Regions from separate parts of the Homo sapiens genome. Here region 2 is linked to region 1. Evidence: fine-mapped expression QTL. Tissue or cell type: esophagus mucosa. Region 1 holds a variant in brackets; the other region holds the start of a gene. All regions are shown on one strand. Distances are between the middles of the regions.

Region 1 (8,104 bases):
TGAGCCGAGATCGCACCATTGCACTCCAGCCTGGGCAACAAGAGGAAAGCTCTGTCTATAAAAAATAAAAAAAATAGACAGGGTCTCGCTCTGCAGCCTTGAACTCCTGGGCTCAAGCGATACACCTGCTTCAGCCTTCCGACTAGCTGGGACTACAGGTATGCATCACCACACTCAACTAATTTTTTTTTTTTTTTTTGAGACAGAGTCTCACTCTGTCACTCAGGCTGGAGTGTAATGGTGTGTTCTTTGCTCACTGCAACCTCCGTCTCCTGGGTTCATGCAATTCTCCTGCCTCAGCCTCCCAAGTAGCTGGGATTGCAGGCATCCACCACCATGCTTGGCTAATTTTTGTATTTTTAGTAGAGACACGGTTTCACCAGGCTGGTCTTGAACTCCTAGCATCAGGTGATCCACCCACCTCGGCCTCCCAAAGTGCTGCACACCCAGCTAATTAAAAATTTTTTTGTACAGACAGGATCTTGCTATGTTGTCCAGGCTGGTCTTGAACCCTTGACCTAAAGAAATCCCTCTGCCTTGGCCTCCCAAAGCACTGGGATTACAGGAGTGAGCCACTGCACCTCAGCCAGCATGACTTCTTAAAATAAAAAGTAGGAGAGAGATGGATTTCAACACAAACCCCAAACACTAAAGATATAAATATAATACAACATCCAACGTCAACACTATCTTCTTTCCCTGACTTGTCTTGTTTCCAACCGCAGCACACACAAGATCTTTCTCTATGCCCAACTTTTATCTTCACCCTTCTCCGCTATCATTTTACCTGATTGTCAAAGCACATCTCGACTGAGAACTGAATTTTGTCAGCTACAACACCTCCACTGGGAAAAATGGCATAGATCACCAGGGAAGGATCAGGGGCCAGTCTCGAAGTGAAGGTCAGTGAGAGAGAGAAGGAGGCTTTCAGTCCTGAAAGAGAAGAGGGAATATACAGGAAAATCAGAATGCACATTCACCTGCCAACGGCATCTAACCATATGTACTTTTCACTGAGCCAGTGCAGGCACCATGGTGCAAGTTACTTCTCATTTTTCTCTTCTCCTGTGATAACTGTTAGTGCTCCAATTCCATTACTTCTGTGGATAAGAATTTTTTTATTTTATTTTATTTTATTTTATTTATTTTTTTTTTTTTTTGAGACGGAGTCTCGCTCTGTCGCCCAGGCTGGAGCGCAGTGGCATGATCTCGGCTCACTGCAAGCTCCGCCTCCCGGGTTCACGCCATTCTCCTGCCTCAGCCTCCCGAGTAGCTGGGACTACAGGGGCCCGCCCCGACGTCCGGCTAATTTTTTTTTGTATTTTTAGTAGAGACGGGGTTTCACCATGTTAGCCAAGATGGTCTCGATCTCCCGACATCGTGATCCGCCCACCTCGGCCTCCCAAAGTGCTGGGATTACAGGCATGAGCCACCGCGCCTGGCCAAGAATTGTTTTCTGGAATTTAAAAATATCCTGTTTGCTTCCGGGAAAAGCATGTACACTCACCTTTCTTCTTAGAGTTCAGGTGTTTCTGCCCCTCCATCACCAAACTTCCTTTCCCTATTAACTAAAGAAGAAAAGAAAAGAATCAACTGCACAGAAGTTACAGTAATTTCACCTTGGACCAACTTCCAGAGCATCTCTGCATCCCTTCATGAGGAGAGGTTCCTTTCACAGTTCAGAGTCCGGGTCAATACCTCACCCAGCATCCACTAGCTTGACAAATGCAGGATGCTGCCAACGGGTCCTGGTGGCTCCTCCTGCAGTTGGAGGTCTGGCTGAGAACCACGCAGGTGGATGGGAGGAGTCTGACAGCATAGAAATTGTTCCTCACCATAGATAACTGTCTGCCATTTCTTGAAGATCTCCAAATTTTATTTTCTTATAATCTTTGTAACAGAAAGTCAGCGAAAATCTATCCTCATAAGTGTTTTTTAATTACAGCTCAATTTAAAATTCAGTGGAAATAATTTCATCCTAAACCACCCTGAGCCCTTCTGACATTGAACCCTCTAGAGGAGAAATCTCCTCTTCTAACTCCCCCTTCCCGTCCACTCTCACTTGAAACAGAACTCGGTGATCTTGTTTGCAAGCAGGCTCTCATCCCACGCTCCTGCAGGGCTCCAAGGTCGGTTCCTTGGACGCCTGCCCAGCATTAGCCATTCCACGTGGCTCGGCCCTAACTTCACTTTTGTCCTACACCTCCCCACACTTCGGTCCTGAAGACAGAGCCCGCTTTATCACTGGACTTGTTATTTTCCACCTATCTTTTCTCTTTTCGTTGTATTAGGATGATTTTTTTTTTTTCACTTAACGACAACACTGAAACCATGGAAGCTACTGCAATGATCCAGAGGGGAGAAAGTCTCTCATAGACTGACAGGAGGATAACGGAACAAAGAGGCTCCGAGCCATCAAACCTGAGGTTTCCATTCTACTTCCTGACTGTCACCAAGGTGACAGGAAAGCTGCTTATCCTTATACATTGCTTTCAGGCTACCAAGTTATGATTTTATTTCCCCAATGAGGCTGCTATCGATGTGAATTTAACCCCATATCATCTATTTGATAATATTGACCAATGGAACACAGAATGAAATGTATCCTGGCTGGGCTCGGTGGCTCATGCCTGCAGTCCCAGCACTTTGGGAGGCCAAGGTGGGCAGATCACCTGAGGTCAGGAGTTCAAGACCAGCCTGGCCAACATGGCGAAACCCTGTCTCATATAAATTAAAAAAAAAAAAAAAGTATCCTGAGTCCCATCCCTCCCCACTCTCCCTCCCAACCACCCAGCTGGTTTTGTTTTTGTTTTTGTTTTTTTTGGTCCTGGCCAGCACTATTTTCTCAGGTAATTCCTCATTTTATTTTCCCACACAATTTTCCTGTGTTCCTGCTCAGAATCTCTTTCTTCCCCCAATGTTTTCCATCTCTTACACCTATACTGGGCCATGCAGTATCTCATAGCCACATAGGAATATTGAATACTTGAGGCCGGGCGCGGTGGCTCATGCCTGTAATCCCAGCACTCTGGGAGACTGAGGCAGGTGGATCACGAGGTCAGGAGATCGAGACCATCCTAGTTAACATGGTGAAACCCCGTCTCTACTAAAAATACAAAAAAAATTAGCTGGGCGTGGTGGCGGGCGCCTGTAGTCCCAGCTACTTGGGAGGCTGAGACAGGAGAATGGCGTGAACCTGGGAGGTGGAGCTTGCAGTGAGCCAAGAACACACCACTGCACTCCAGCCTGGGCAACTGAGCGAGACTGTGTCTCAAAAAAAAAAAAAAAGAAAAAAAAAGGAATATTGAATACTTGAAATGTGCTCAGTCCAAACTGAGATACGCTTTAAGTGTAAAATACATACTGAGTTTCAAAGACACCGTTGAAACAAGAATGTAAAATATCTATTAAAACTTTTTATATGGCTTTCGTGTTAAAATGTTAATATTTTGGATATAATGGGTTAAATAAAAAATACATTTAAAATTAATGTCAACTGTTCTTTTACTTTTTTAGTGTGGCTTTAAAATTGTTTTTAATTAGATGTGCATCTGCAATTCAGATAGCCTAGGTGCACCCTCTGGCTGACTCTTCTCATTCTCTTTCCTTCCCAGCATACTCTCACCCGTCCCCGTTTCC[C/T]GGTCTCACATAGTAGGAGAAGCTGATCTCTTGGTCAGGGCTTGCATCGGCCGGGTCGATGTAATAATCCACCAGCACTTCCTGGGGCTGGCCACATTTCAAGGGGCCGTTTAGCCGGTGGATGCCAAGGAAGCTGCGGGTTGTGCTGTAGAAGGGTCGCAGGTGCAGGTAGGCATTTTGGTAGTAACGTGGCACTTGTTCCGGATTATATACTAAGTCTTCCATTTGAAACTTTCCCTGAGAATAAAAGAGAGAGAGAGAATTTTAGCATGTGCTCCAACCATGGAAACCCCACGGACTTGTTACGGTTTTCAAATAGAGCTCTTTCTCTCAAATCTTCACTGCCTGAGAATGGCATGTGGGTATTTCATTAGCGGTCCAGCCAAGGATGGATAAAGAATCCATAAACGTAGCTGTGTACAGCAATATTTTGGTATGTAGGAGAGCGACAGAAGGGCTGAATTATAGTTACTAAATGAGAGGAAATTGTGGGTGATGTATCTTCACAGATATTCCTGGGATAGATGAACGTGACTTAGATTATATAGAAATCAAAGATTATATTTCAGGGATAAGAAAACTAGGCACAGAAGACACTAAGATTGAAAAATAATTATTTCTGAGTAACTGAGTCATGCCTAGAGTAAAGAAATAGTCAAATTAGCCACAAGGCAAGTAGTATGTGTTTGCTTAAGTCCTGAGGTTGAACGATCTCATTAATGGCTCCAATTCCTCACACGCACCCCGCCCCCTCCGAGATCAGCATCCTTGAGCATGTGGTCTTCCAGTACCCTCCTAGTCTGTGCCCACTGTTCGATTTGTTGGGAAAGGGGTGTTAACATATGCAACAGGGGCCGGGCGCGGTGGCTCACGCCTGTAATCCCAGCACTTTGGGAGGCCAAGGCGGGCGGATCACGAGGTCAGGAGATCGAGACCATCCTGGCTAACACAGTGAAACCCCATCTCTACTAAAAAATACAAAAAATTAGCCGGGCGTGGTGGCAGGCGCCTGTAGTCCCAGCTACTCGGGGAGGCTGAGGCAGGAGAATGGCGTGAACCGGGGAGGCGGAGCTTGCAGTGAGCCGAGATCACGCCACTGCACTCCAGCCTGGGTGACAGAGTGAGACTCTGTCTCAAAAAAAAAAAAAAGAAAAAAACATATGCAATATACAGAGGTTTGGAAAAGCCCTGAACATCAGCTTTTGCACTTGCACCTCATCACTGCCATAAGAATATACCTGGGCTAGCTGGCTCCTGCATGAGAGGCATGCGGAGCAGCAGCTTATGGCCAGCCGATCTGCAGACAGTTCTGGAAATCGAAATCAGCAGAGCTGCCTGACTGAATGCCCCAGATGCACAAGCAGTGAATGCTTTCTGCTGCACGATACTGAAGTTTGTAGCTGTTTGATAAGAAGCATTGTTGTGGCAGTTGATAATTGATACTTATAAGTTATCTAGAATCTAGAGTTCTCTTGTTTGCTGTTTTTATTAAGTAATGAGGGGATGGGAAGGGGAAAGAGAAAGAAAAAGACTCTGAGTCACCTATTCCTCCCTGCTCTAACTTCATATATAGATAGGATCAGATAGAGATGGGGGTAAGTTAAAAGATGTATTAGTAGAAATAGTAGTTTTCATCCAAGTAAGGACTATTTATTTGATTGATATTAAAAACAGAAAGCATCTAAGGAAAACTTTTTGTCAACGGGAGAGCAGGACTTGTGAGTGAGAAAGATGTAATTCCAAGCAGAGGGGAGAATAGGAAACAGGAAAATTCTGAAGTTTTCCTTCAGGGAAGCCTTCCTTTCTAGGAAGCTGGTCCTCCGTCCATGCTTACCTCCAGAGAAACGTCTGTCCCATTCCAACCGGATGTCTCCAAGGTAAAGGGAGCTAGGCCATTGTTATCAGTAACCAGGGTCTGGTTGAAGGTTCCATTTGTGCCATAAATCACCAGAAACACTAGATGGTTCTTGAGGAAGGAGTCATCATGGCCCCTAACTCTTATCTGAAGGACAAAGATCATTACGGATTAGAATTAGGTTTGGAGTAAGCTTGAGTATGAGGTAAAGTGAAATATTAGGTTGGTGCAAACTAATTGTGGTTTTTGGCACTAAAAGTAATAACAGAATTTCTAAGAATACATTTCAGGAAAGAGTCCTGAAAAAGATAAATGTGATTCAAGCTTTTGAACTAGGATCTGTGAGGAACCGAAAAACAAACAGAAGTAACAGCCCAGAGCAGAGCTAGATTTGCCCGGTGGCTAATGAAGCTTCAGGGCTCTTCATATGCACAGGCTCCTTCAAAGGTTCTGCACGTTGTTTTGCTTTCTTTTTTCTTTCCTTCCTTCCTTCCTTCCTTCCGTCCTTCCTTCCTTCCTTCCTTCCTTCCTTCCTTCTTTCCTTCCTTCTTTCCTTCCTTCCTTCCTTCTTTCCTTCCTTTCTTCCTTCCTTTCTTTCTTTTTTTTTTTGAGATGGAGTCTCAGTCTGTCGCCCAGGCTGGAGTGCAGTGGGACGAGCTCAGCTCACTGCAACCTCTACCTCCTGGGTTCAAGCGATTCTCCTGCCTCAGCCTCCCAAGTAGTGGGACTATAGGCCCGTGCCACCATACCTGGCTAATTTTTGTATTTTTAGCAGGGACGGGTTTTCACCATGTTGGTCAGGCTGGTTTCGAACTCCTGACCTCGTGATTCGCCCGCCTCAGCCTCCCAAAGTGCTGAGATTACAGGCATGAGCCATTGTGCCCAGCCTATTTTGCTTTCTTTTTCTTAAAGCGAATCCCCTACCCTCCCAAACTGTGTAATCCTTAGGCTCTAAAAATAATTTGCACCCACCCTTGGTCTAGAGAAATGATAACTGAGGAATAAATGCATCTCTATGTGTGCAATATTATTGTGTGGACCAGCTGTACAAGAAGTAAAGAAAGATAAGCTGAACAAGAGAGAAATTCAGTTAGATATCAGAAAGAAAACACTAGCAAAGAAAATTTAATTATGTATTTATCTTTTTTTTTTTTTTTTGAGACAGTCTCGCTCTATCGCCCAGGCTGGAGTGCAGTGGCATGATCTTAGCTCACTGCACCCCCTGCCTCCTGTGTTCAAGCCATTCTCGTGCCTCAGACTCCCGAGTAGCTGGGATTATAGGCATGCGCCACCATGCCTGGCTAATTTTTGTATTTTTAGCAGAGACAAGTTTTCGCCATGTTGGCCAGGCTGGTCTCGAACTCTTGGCCTCAAGTGATCTGCCCACCTCAGCCTCCCAAAGTGCTAGGACTGCAGACGTGAGCCACCACGCCCTGCCGGAAATTTTAAAATCTCTAAAGAAAATTGCTAGTCAGGCACAGTGGCTCACTCCTGTAATCCCAGCACTTTGGGAGGCCCAGGTGGACGGATCACCTGAGGTCGGGAGTTCAAGACCAGCCTGACCAACATGGAGAAACCCCATCTCTACTAAAAATACAAAATTAGCCAGGCATGGGGACACATGTCTGTAATCCCAGCTACTCAGGAGGCTGAGACAGGAGAATCGCTTGAACCTGGGAGGTGGAGGTTGCGGTGAACAGAGATCGCGCCATTGCACTTCAGGCTGGGCAACAAGAGCGAGACTGTCTCAAAACAAAACAAAACAAAACAAAAACAGAAAGAAAAACAAAATTGCTTACAGAGCTATACATGGCTGTCAAGGAAAGTTTCATATTAACCTTGCCTAGATGCAGGAGACCAGGCTGGATGATTTCTCTAGAAACCCTGCAGCTCTTAAATATGAAGATTTAGACATTAGAAGATCAGCCCCTGGCATTAGAAAGACCCCTAAGGTGTCATTAATATTCAAGGCACTTCTTCTATGGGATTGGGGCAGCAGAGTACAGGGAGTGGAGAGTGTATACCCGGGAGGCAGGCTTCCTGGATTTGGTCATAGTTCCCATCTATTTGTGATCACCTTGGAAAAATCACTTAGCCTCTGTTGCCTGTCTCAGTATCCATAAAATGGGGCCAATACAGTGCCTGCCTCATTGCATTATTCTAAAGATTAAAATGAATACACATAAAGTACTTGGAACAGCACTAAGTTAGCTATGTGGCTATGGCTGCAGGAAGGAGGCAAAGTAGATGGTTATGCATTTTTTTGTCTATGCAGAGAAAAGTTTTAACATACCTTCCCACTGAAGGGGAAATTTGGATGGTAAAAATTGCTGGTGTCTTCAAAGGTCATTGATCCCATTTGTGGAGAAATGTAGATATTCTGAGTGGCATTGGCCTCCACACCTGCAGAGGGAAACCAGATGTATAAAGATCTAGGCACCTGATATTCTCATCTTCACGTTTAATGTCAAGTCTCTGAGAGAATGGTGGCAGAGGGATGAAGTTGAATGTATTTCTGGCCAAAGATCCAAACCAACCTCACCTCCCCAATCTTTTGGAGAAGTATGTAGTATTTCTTCTTTTTTTTTTTTTTTTTTTTTTAAGATGGAG
Region 2 (8,104 bases), 21 kb after region 1:
AATAAATGGTTCTGGGAAAATTGGATATCCATATGCAGAAGAATGAAACTAGACCCTCATCTCTCTCCATATAGAAAAATCAAGTCAAAATGGATGAAAGATTTAAATCTAATACCTCAATCTATGAAACTATTATATATAAGAAAACTTTGGGGAAACTCTCCAGAACATTGGTCTGGGCAAAGATTTCTTGAGTAATACCCAAGGAGCACAAGAAACCAAAGCAAAAATGGACAAACAGGATCACATCAAGTTAAAAAGCTTCTGCACAGCAAAGGAAACAATCAACAAAGAGACAACCCACAGAATGAAAGAAAATATTTGCAAACTACCCATCTGACAAGGGATTAATAACCAGAATATATAAGGAGCTCAGACAGCTGTATAGGAAAACATCTAGTAATCAGATTAAAGAACGGGCAAAAAGATCTGAATAGACATTTCTCAAAAGAAGACATACAAATGGCAAACAGGTATATAAAAAAGGTGCTCAAATCATTGACTGTCAGAGAAATGTAAATCAAAACTACAATGAGATATTATCTCACCCCAGTTAAAATGGCTTTTTTCCAAAAGACAAACAATAATAAATGCTGGTGAGGATGTGGAGAAAAGAGAACCCTCATACACTGTTGGTGGGAATGTAAATTAGTACAACCACTATGGAGAACAGTTTGGAGGTTTCTGAAAAAAACTAAAAATAGAGCTTCCATATAATCCTGCAAGCCCACTGCTAAGTATATATACAAAAGAAAGGAAATCAGTATATCAAAGACTATCTGTGCTGCCATGTTTATGGCATCAGTATTCACAATAGCCAAGATATGGAAGCAACCTAAGTGTCTATGAACAGATGATAAAAAATGGATTAAAAAATGTGGTACACATACATAATGGAGTACTATTCAGCCATAAAAAAGAATGAGACCCCATCCTTTGCAACAGCCTGAATGGAACAGGAGGTCATTATGTTAAGTAAAATAAACCAGACACAGAAAGACAAACTTTCCATGTTCTCATTTATTTGTGGGAGCTAAAAATTAAAACAATTGAAGTCGTGGAGATAGAGAATAGAATAATAATTTTTAAGTGTGTGGAAAAAAATAAGGTAAAAGGAAAAAAATTTTTTTGAAAGAGAGAGAGAGAACAGAATGATGGTTACCAGATGCTGGGAAGGGTAATGGTGGGCAGGATGAGGGGTGGGGTGGGAATGGTTAATGGGTACAAAAATATATTTAGCTAGAATGAATAAGATCTAGGGATCTTGTAGTTTTTAGCACAAAGAGTGACTACAGTCAACAATAATTTATTGCACATTTAAAAATTACTAAGAGAGTATAATTGGATTGTTTGTAATACAAGGAAATGATAAATGCTTGAGGTGATGGATACACATGTACCCTGATGTAATGATTACACATTGTGTGTGTGTATAAAAATATCTCATCTACCCCATAAATATATATACACCAGCTATGTACCCACAAAAATTTTAAATAAAAAAATAAAAAAAACCCAAACATAGTTTCTTTTCAGGGTGCCTGACTTTGAAATCTCAGAATGAAGTGCCCCTGTAAGGACGAATGAACAAATACAAAAAAAAAAAAAAAAAAAAAAAAAAACCCCAGTAGCTCAAGCCAAATGCCCTCAGTGCTTTCTTAGCCATTTACAAGCAGTTTGTTGTAAGGCCCAGCAACCCAGTTATACTTGCCAAATTCTATTCCAGAAGAAATGTGTACTTTTGTTTTAGATACACAAACTCAGTAGCAACCCCCACCTACTTCTCTTGCTTGTGTAGCGCAGCATGTATTCAACACTTGCACTACTTAATCCCCCCAGATTTTCCTCTCCTCTGCACTCCTTTTTTTCCAAAGCCTACTGTCAAACCACAAATCCCCTCTTTACCCCTGTGCACAGCGGTTTCCCCAGGTTTTAGTCGAACCCCAAATATGTGACTCTTACCTTGCTGCCCTGGGGTGTAGAGAGGTTTGTCAGTCTGTACAAAGGTGCCGTTCCCCTGCCTCTGAATTAGAACCTTTTTCTTCTCCTCAAAGCTGATGTTATTTCCAACTCCCGACACCCGGATTGTGGCCACTTCTTCTGTGCCACCAGCAGGAGGTGGTACCTGACCAAGAAAGGGGACTTCTGGGGAGGGGTAAGGGATTGGGGGAACAGAATCAACTGGTCTCAACCCAACAGTGAGTTAAAGGAAAGAGCTGAGTTAGATGGGGGTAGCAAGGATAGAGACATAAAACAAATTACCACGAGGAAGAATTAAGGTCAGGAACTAAAGGGAGAAATCCTAGGTCGAGGAAACCGTGGGTGAGTTATAGCCGGGGATTGAGGTTAAGTTGAGAAAAAATAGGTTTAGAGGCCGTGGCAAAAGATAACAGAAATTATACTTAAAGTAGATTATAGTGAGCCTAGGGAGGAGAATAGGCAAGTAAGGGATTCGAGTGAGGGCTGAGTCTGTGCTTACAAGAAAGGAGATACAATGTAAGTGCCTCTTCTTCAGTCCAGAGTATTCTAGCAACTTCTGGGTCTTGTCCTTGGTCTCCAGAGTAACCGTGAATTTAACATCACTGTACCCAGGGCTCAGGTCCAAACAAACCTTCTGAACGGAGGGGAAATTTAGCCGGGCTGGTAATGTCACCAGGTAGTTTCTATTAAAGGAGCAGAAGGATTTCAGGGCAATAATGATTCATTCACTCGAAAAATCCAGCACTCTCCTAAGCGCTCAGCAAGTAGCAGTGAATTAGACAGACCAAGCCCCTGCCTTCCTTATGCACCTCATTTTCTACAAGAAGCAGAGGGGCAACGACTCAGTGCACAGTCTTCAACTTCCGCCATCAGGAGGCCCTCACCGAGCACACATGCCTAGAGCACCAAGGAGGAAATTAGGCCTATTTCAGAAAACAGGGCACATTTTAATATTTATCTTTTTTAAAGCTTCCTCTTCATGCGTCAGCCTCCCTCTCTGGGTAAAGGATCAGTGGAACCAAAGAAGAGAAAAAAGGAGGAGGAAATTAAGATAAACCAAAGTTGATCTCCCCATCTCCATATAAATGTTTGAGAAAGTTAGGCGAAGAAGCCGCTGCCCTAATAAACCAATTCTGACACCAAGCACTCACGGAAGTTCTTCTGCAATGGCTGGTGATAGGGCCAACATTCCTAGAAGGAGCTGAGCCCACATCTTTGTGGGTGAGACAGATTTTTCCAGGGTCAGGGGCAGAGATCGCTCCGCGTAGCTTTATATACTAATTCCAGGTAGGGTGTGCAGTGATGACTGATGCTATAGTCAGTCACCTCCTGGCACCTGGAACACAGGAGGACTGTGTTCCTCCTTCTGTAACCACCAGGTTAGGTGGTGGACCAGGGTAGGGCCACTATTCACTTCTTTAAAGTTGTTTCTGCCTGGAACATCCATACTGGTTCAGCCAGTTTTGGGGGAAAACCAGAGCTGAGTATTCATAATGGTAAAGCTCTCAGAACATATTTTGAACTCCTCCCTTTTTTTCTGGTCTCATTCCAATTCCTGTTCTCATTTAATGTCCTTATTTTCTTTTATTATTCAATTAAGGTGTAGTTGGGAACACGGGTATGAGAACAGTTTCAATAGAAAAGCAGTAAACTTGGCCGGTCACAGTGGCTCACGCCTGTAATCCCAGCACTTTGGGGGGTTGAGGTGGGCAGATCACCAGGTCAGGAGTTCAAGACCAGCCTGGCCAACATAGTGAAACCCTGTCTCTACTAAAAATACAAAGAAAAAAAAATCAGCTGGGCATAGTGGTGGGTGCCTATAGTCCCAGCTACTTGGGAGGCTGAGGCAGGAGAATCGCTTGAACCCGGGAGGTGGAGGTTGCAGTGAGCCGAGATCATGCCACTTTACTCCAGCGTGGGTGACACAACGAGACTCTGTCTCAAAAAAAAAAAAAATTAATACTACTCAGTATTGTTGTGACTGTATGGAAATAGGGACACACACAGTCCTAGAGAAAATAGAATGTGGATAACTTTCTCATGGCAATTTTGTAATACACACCAAAGCCTTTGAGATTTGCATATTCTTTCACTCAGCAACTCCTACTCTGGAAATGTTTCTTAATGAGGAAAAAAAGGACAGCATGCATGTATGCACAAGTGTAACACTGAGTTTTTTCACACTGTTCTTTCTTTTTTTTCTTTTCTTTATTTTTTATTTTTTTGAAGTAGAGTCTCACTTTATCACCCAGGCTGGAGTGCAGTGGCACAATCTCAGCCCACTGCAGCTTTGACCTCCTGGGCTCAAGCGATCCTCCCACCTCCACCTCCTGAGTAGCTGGGACCACAGGTAGGCACCAACACTCCTGGCTAATTGTTTTGTATTTTTAATAGAGACAGGGTTTCACCATGTTGCCCAGGCTAGTCTCGAACTCCTGAGCTCCAGGGACCACCTCAGCCTCCCAAAGTGCTGGGATTACAGGTATGAGCCACCGTGCCCAGCCCACAGTGTTCTTTATGATGGTAATACTTAGAAGTCACCTAAAATATAAATTAGTCTAAGTGCAGTGGCTCATGCCTATAATCCCAGCTTTTGGGAGTCAGAAGCTGGAGGATTGCTTGAGCCCAAGAGTTTGAGACCAGCCTGGGCAACATAGTGAGACCCCGTTTTGTAACCACCCAATGGATTCACCTTGCTTGCTGCCTAGACAGAGCCGATTTATCAAGACAGGGGAACTGCAATGGCAAAAGAGTAATTCACGCAGAGCCGGCTGTGTGGGAGACTGGAGTTTTATTATTACTTAAATCCTTGAGCCTTCGTGGATCAGAGTTTTTAAAGATAATTTGGCAGGTAGGGGCTTGGGAAGTGGGGAGTGCTGATTGCTCAGGTTGGAGATGGAATCATAGAGGGTCGAAGTTAGATTTTCTTAATGTCTTCTGTTCCTGGGTGAGATGGCAGAACTGGTTGGGCCAGATGACTGGTCTGTGTGGTGTCAGCTGATCCCATGGAGTGCAGGGCCTGCAAAATAACTCAATTACTGATCTTAGGTTTTACAGCAGTGATGTTATCCCCAGGAGCAATTTGGGGAGGTTCAGACTCTTGGAGCCAGAGGCTGCATGACCTCTAAACTGTAATTTCTTTTTTTTTTTTTTTGAGACAGAGTCTGGCTCTACCGCCCAGGCTGAAGTGCAATGGCGCGATCTCGGCTCACTGCAAGCTCCGCCTCCCGGGTTCACGCCATTCTCCTGCCTCAGCCTCCCGAGTAGCTGGGACTACAGGCGCCCGCCACCACGCCCGGCTAATTTTTTGTATTTTTAGTAGAGACGGGGTTTCACCGTGTCAGCCAGGATGGTCTCGATCTCCTGACCTCGTGATCCGCCCGCCTTGGCCTCCCAAAGTGCTGGGATTACAGGCGCGAGCCACTGCACCCGGCCTCTAAACTGTAATTTCTAATCTTGTAGCTAATCTGTTAGTCCTACAAAGGCAGACTGGACCCCGGGCAAGAAGGGGGTCTTTTTGGGAAAGGGCTGTTATCAATTTTGTTTCAGAGTCAAACCATGAACTGAATTCCTTCCCAAAGTTACTTCGGCCTATGCCCAGGAATAAACAAGGACAGCTTAAGGGTTAGAAGCAAGATAGAGTCGGTTAGGTCTGACTTCTTGCACTGTCATAATTTCCTGTTACAATTTTGCAAAGGCAGTTTCAGTCTGTATAAAACATTTCTTTAAAATTAGCTGAGTGTGGTGGTGCACGCCTGTAGTCCCAGCTACTCTGGAGGCTGAGATGGTAGGATTTGCTTGAGCCCAGGGGTTCAAGGCTGCAATGAGCCATGATAGCACCACTGCACTCCAGCCTGGGCAACAGTGAGAACTTGTCTCATAAAATAAAATAATAAAATAGATTAGCCAGGATGCTCTCTGGGACCAATGATCATCCTATATCAAACCAGCCTAAACAAAAAAGTGTTTTTGGTAACTGGAATGGATCCAACAGGAAGAATGAGCTTATGGAACCAGAGCACCTTGAAAAACTTGACAGCCCAGGAGTGGAGACGTGGTGCAGCCAGGGCCGACTCCTCCCAGTCCTTCTCTCTTGTGTACTTGTCTCTGATTGGTTCATTTTCTCCTACTGCACACAAGCTTTTCTTCAAGTCGTAGGGAGGACGGCAGCTGGGAGCCCTCAAGCCATATTCGTTCAGCTCCACGACCCCAACTGACAAAATTTTTCACCTATGTTATAGAAATTCCCGAAGAAGGACTGTGTTCCTCCCTCTCTCGCTGGCTCACCTCTGAATCAGTCACTGTAGTCAGGAGGGTATGATAGGCAGGGCCTGGGTCATTCTCCCACCTAAAGGCCAGGGTGATGGGGTACTGTGATTGGCCACCCCTTTAGAACCACAGGGAGTTGGGGAGGGGAAATTGTTCAAAGAAATCACTACAGTAGGAAAAGTGTTGGTGTAAAGAGCTGCAAACATAAAACATTAAGTCTATTACAATGCCCCATAAAGAGTTCGGTTGAATAAACTGTCATGTTAATATAAAGCAATACTCTGCTGCCATTAAAAATAATGTTTTCATGATAAGGGGAATTATTTGCAATGCTAATTGAAAGGGGTTGGGGCTGGTGCAGCGGCTCACACCTGTAATCCCAGCACTTTGGGAGGCCGATCCGTAGGAGCTCGAGACCAGCCTAGTCAACATGGCGAAACCCTGTCTCTCCCAAAAATACAAAAATTAGCCAGGCATGGTGGTGGGCGCCTATAATCTCAGCTACTCGGGAGGCTGAGGCAGGAAAATCACTTGAACTGGGGAGGTGGAGGCTGCAGTGAGCTGAGAGCATAACATTGCACTCCAGCCTGGGCAACAAGAGTGAAATTCCGTCTCAAAAAAAAAAAAAAAAAGAAAAGAAAGGGGTTGGGGAAAGTGATACAAAACGACATGTGGCAAGTTCCACTTTAACTTGGAATTTGAAAGGCTAGAAAGAGTGTGGCTTGGTGGCTCGAGCCTGTGATCTCAACACTTTGGGAAGGCAAGGTGGGAGGGTTGTTTGAGGCCAGGAGTTCGAGATCAACCTGGGCAGTATAGTAAGACCCCATCTCTACCAAAAAAAAAAATTAAAAGTTAGCTAGGTGTGGTGTCACATGCCCAGCTACTTGGGAGGCTGAGGCAGGAAGATCACTAGAGCCCAGGACTTCAAGTCTGCAGTGAGCCATGATTGTGCCACTGCACTCCAGCCTGGGCAACAGAGCAAGACCCTGTCTCTAAGAATAAAAAATAAAAATAAGCTGGAAAGTGCATTGCCCCCTCTCTGACAATATGAAAAAGCCAGACAAACTGCAAAATCACTTTTCTTAAACCAAAAGTTGAACCTAAATGCTGAGCTGGGCCGGGGGCGGTGGCTCACGTCTGTAATCCCAGCACTTTGGGAGGCTGAGGCAAGCAGATCACAAGGTCAGGAGTTCGAGACCCGCCTGGCCAATATGGTGAAACCCTGTCTTTACTAAAAATACAAAAAAATTAGCCAGGCATGGTGGTGCATGCCTGTAATCCCAGCTACTCGGGAGGCTGAGGCAGGAGAATTGCTTGAACCCAGGAGGTGGAGGTTGCAGTGAGCTGAGATCACGCCATTGCACTCCAGCCTGAGTGACAGAGCAAGACTCCATCACAAAACAAAACAAAAGAAAACAAAACAGCTGAGCTGAGGTTGCAGGTAAGCTAAGTAGCCTGAAATTCAAGGACATGCAATCCTCATGAGCAGAGACCAGATGGGTGGAGTGTCTCATCAGTGCCAGAGTATGGGAGGTATTTAGGCCATCATACAAGCATGCAAGAAGAAAGCAGCTACATTTTTCATAAATTGCTAGAGGCCTAGTGCAGACTAGAGTGACTATAAGGAGCCTCTGGGTGTCACAGAAGCAAGGAGGGCTTTACTTACCCACAGGCTCCTTTCCATGACCTCTACCAGGTGTTCACAGGAAATACTGGGGGCCAAGTGGGAGACTACAAAGAGCCCCCTCAGTACTATGGGCATCAAGGACCGTATTTGCTATCATTGCAGAAAAGGCCCCAGCTGCCCATGCTCCTCTCTCGAAAGCCTTAAGACCCTGGGGAGGACTGGCAAATA

The links. PIP is the estimated chance that this variant, and not a neighbour inherited with it, causes the effect.
Region 2: it holds the start of A2ML1, and the variant in region 1 is fine-mapped to the expression of A2ML1 in esophagus mucosa (GTEx, PIP 0.97).

Annotation. Positions count from the first base shown.
Region 1 is chr12:8,838,906-8,847,009 of GRCh38, reverse strand. A2ML1 (alpha-2-macroglobulin like 1) reads right to left here. Exons shown (of 36, transcript NM_144670.6): 10 at 7,788-7,897; 11 at 5,474-5,641; 12 at 3,649-3,876; 13 at 1,508-1,568; 14 at 788-933. Among named protein-coding and RNA genes, the nearest start is that of A2ML1-AS1, 12 kb to the right of the region's middle. The variant C/T (reference allele first, on the strand shown) is at 3,640.
Region 2 is chr12:8,817,741-8,825,844 of GRCh38, reverse strand. A2ML1 (alpha-2-macroglobulin like 1) reads right to left here and starts at 3,224. Exons shown (of 36, transcript NM_144670.6): 1 at 3,132-3,224; 2 at 2,480-2,663; 3 at 1,963-2,125. The coding sequence starts at 3,193. All of the region lies in intron 1 of A2ML1-AS1 (A2ML1 antisense RNA 1), which reads left to right. RefSeq lists a silencer at 6,178-6,472.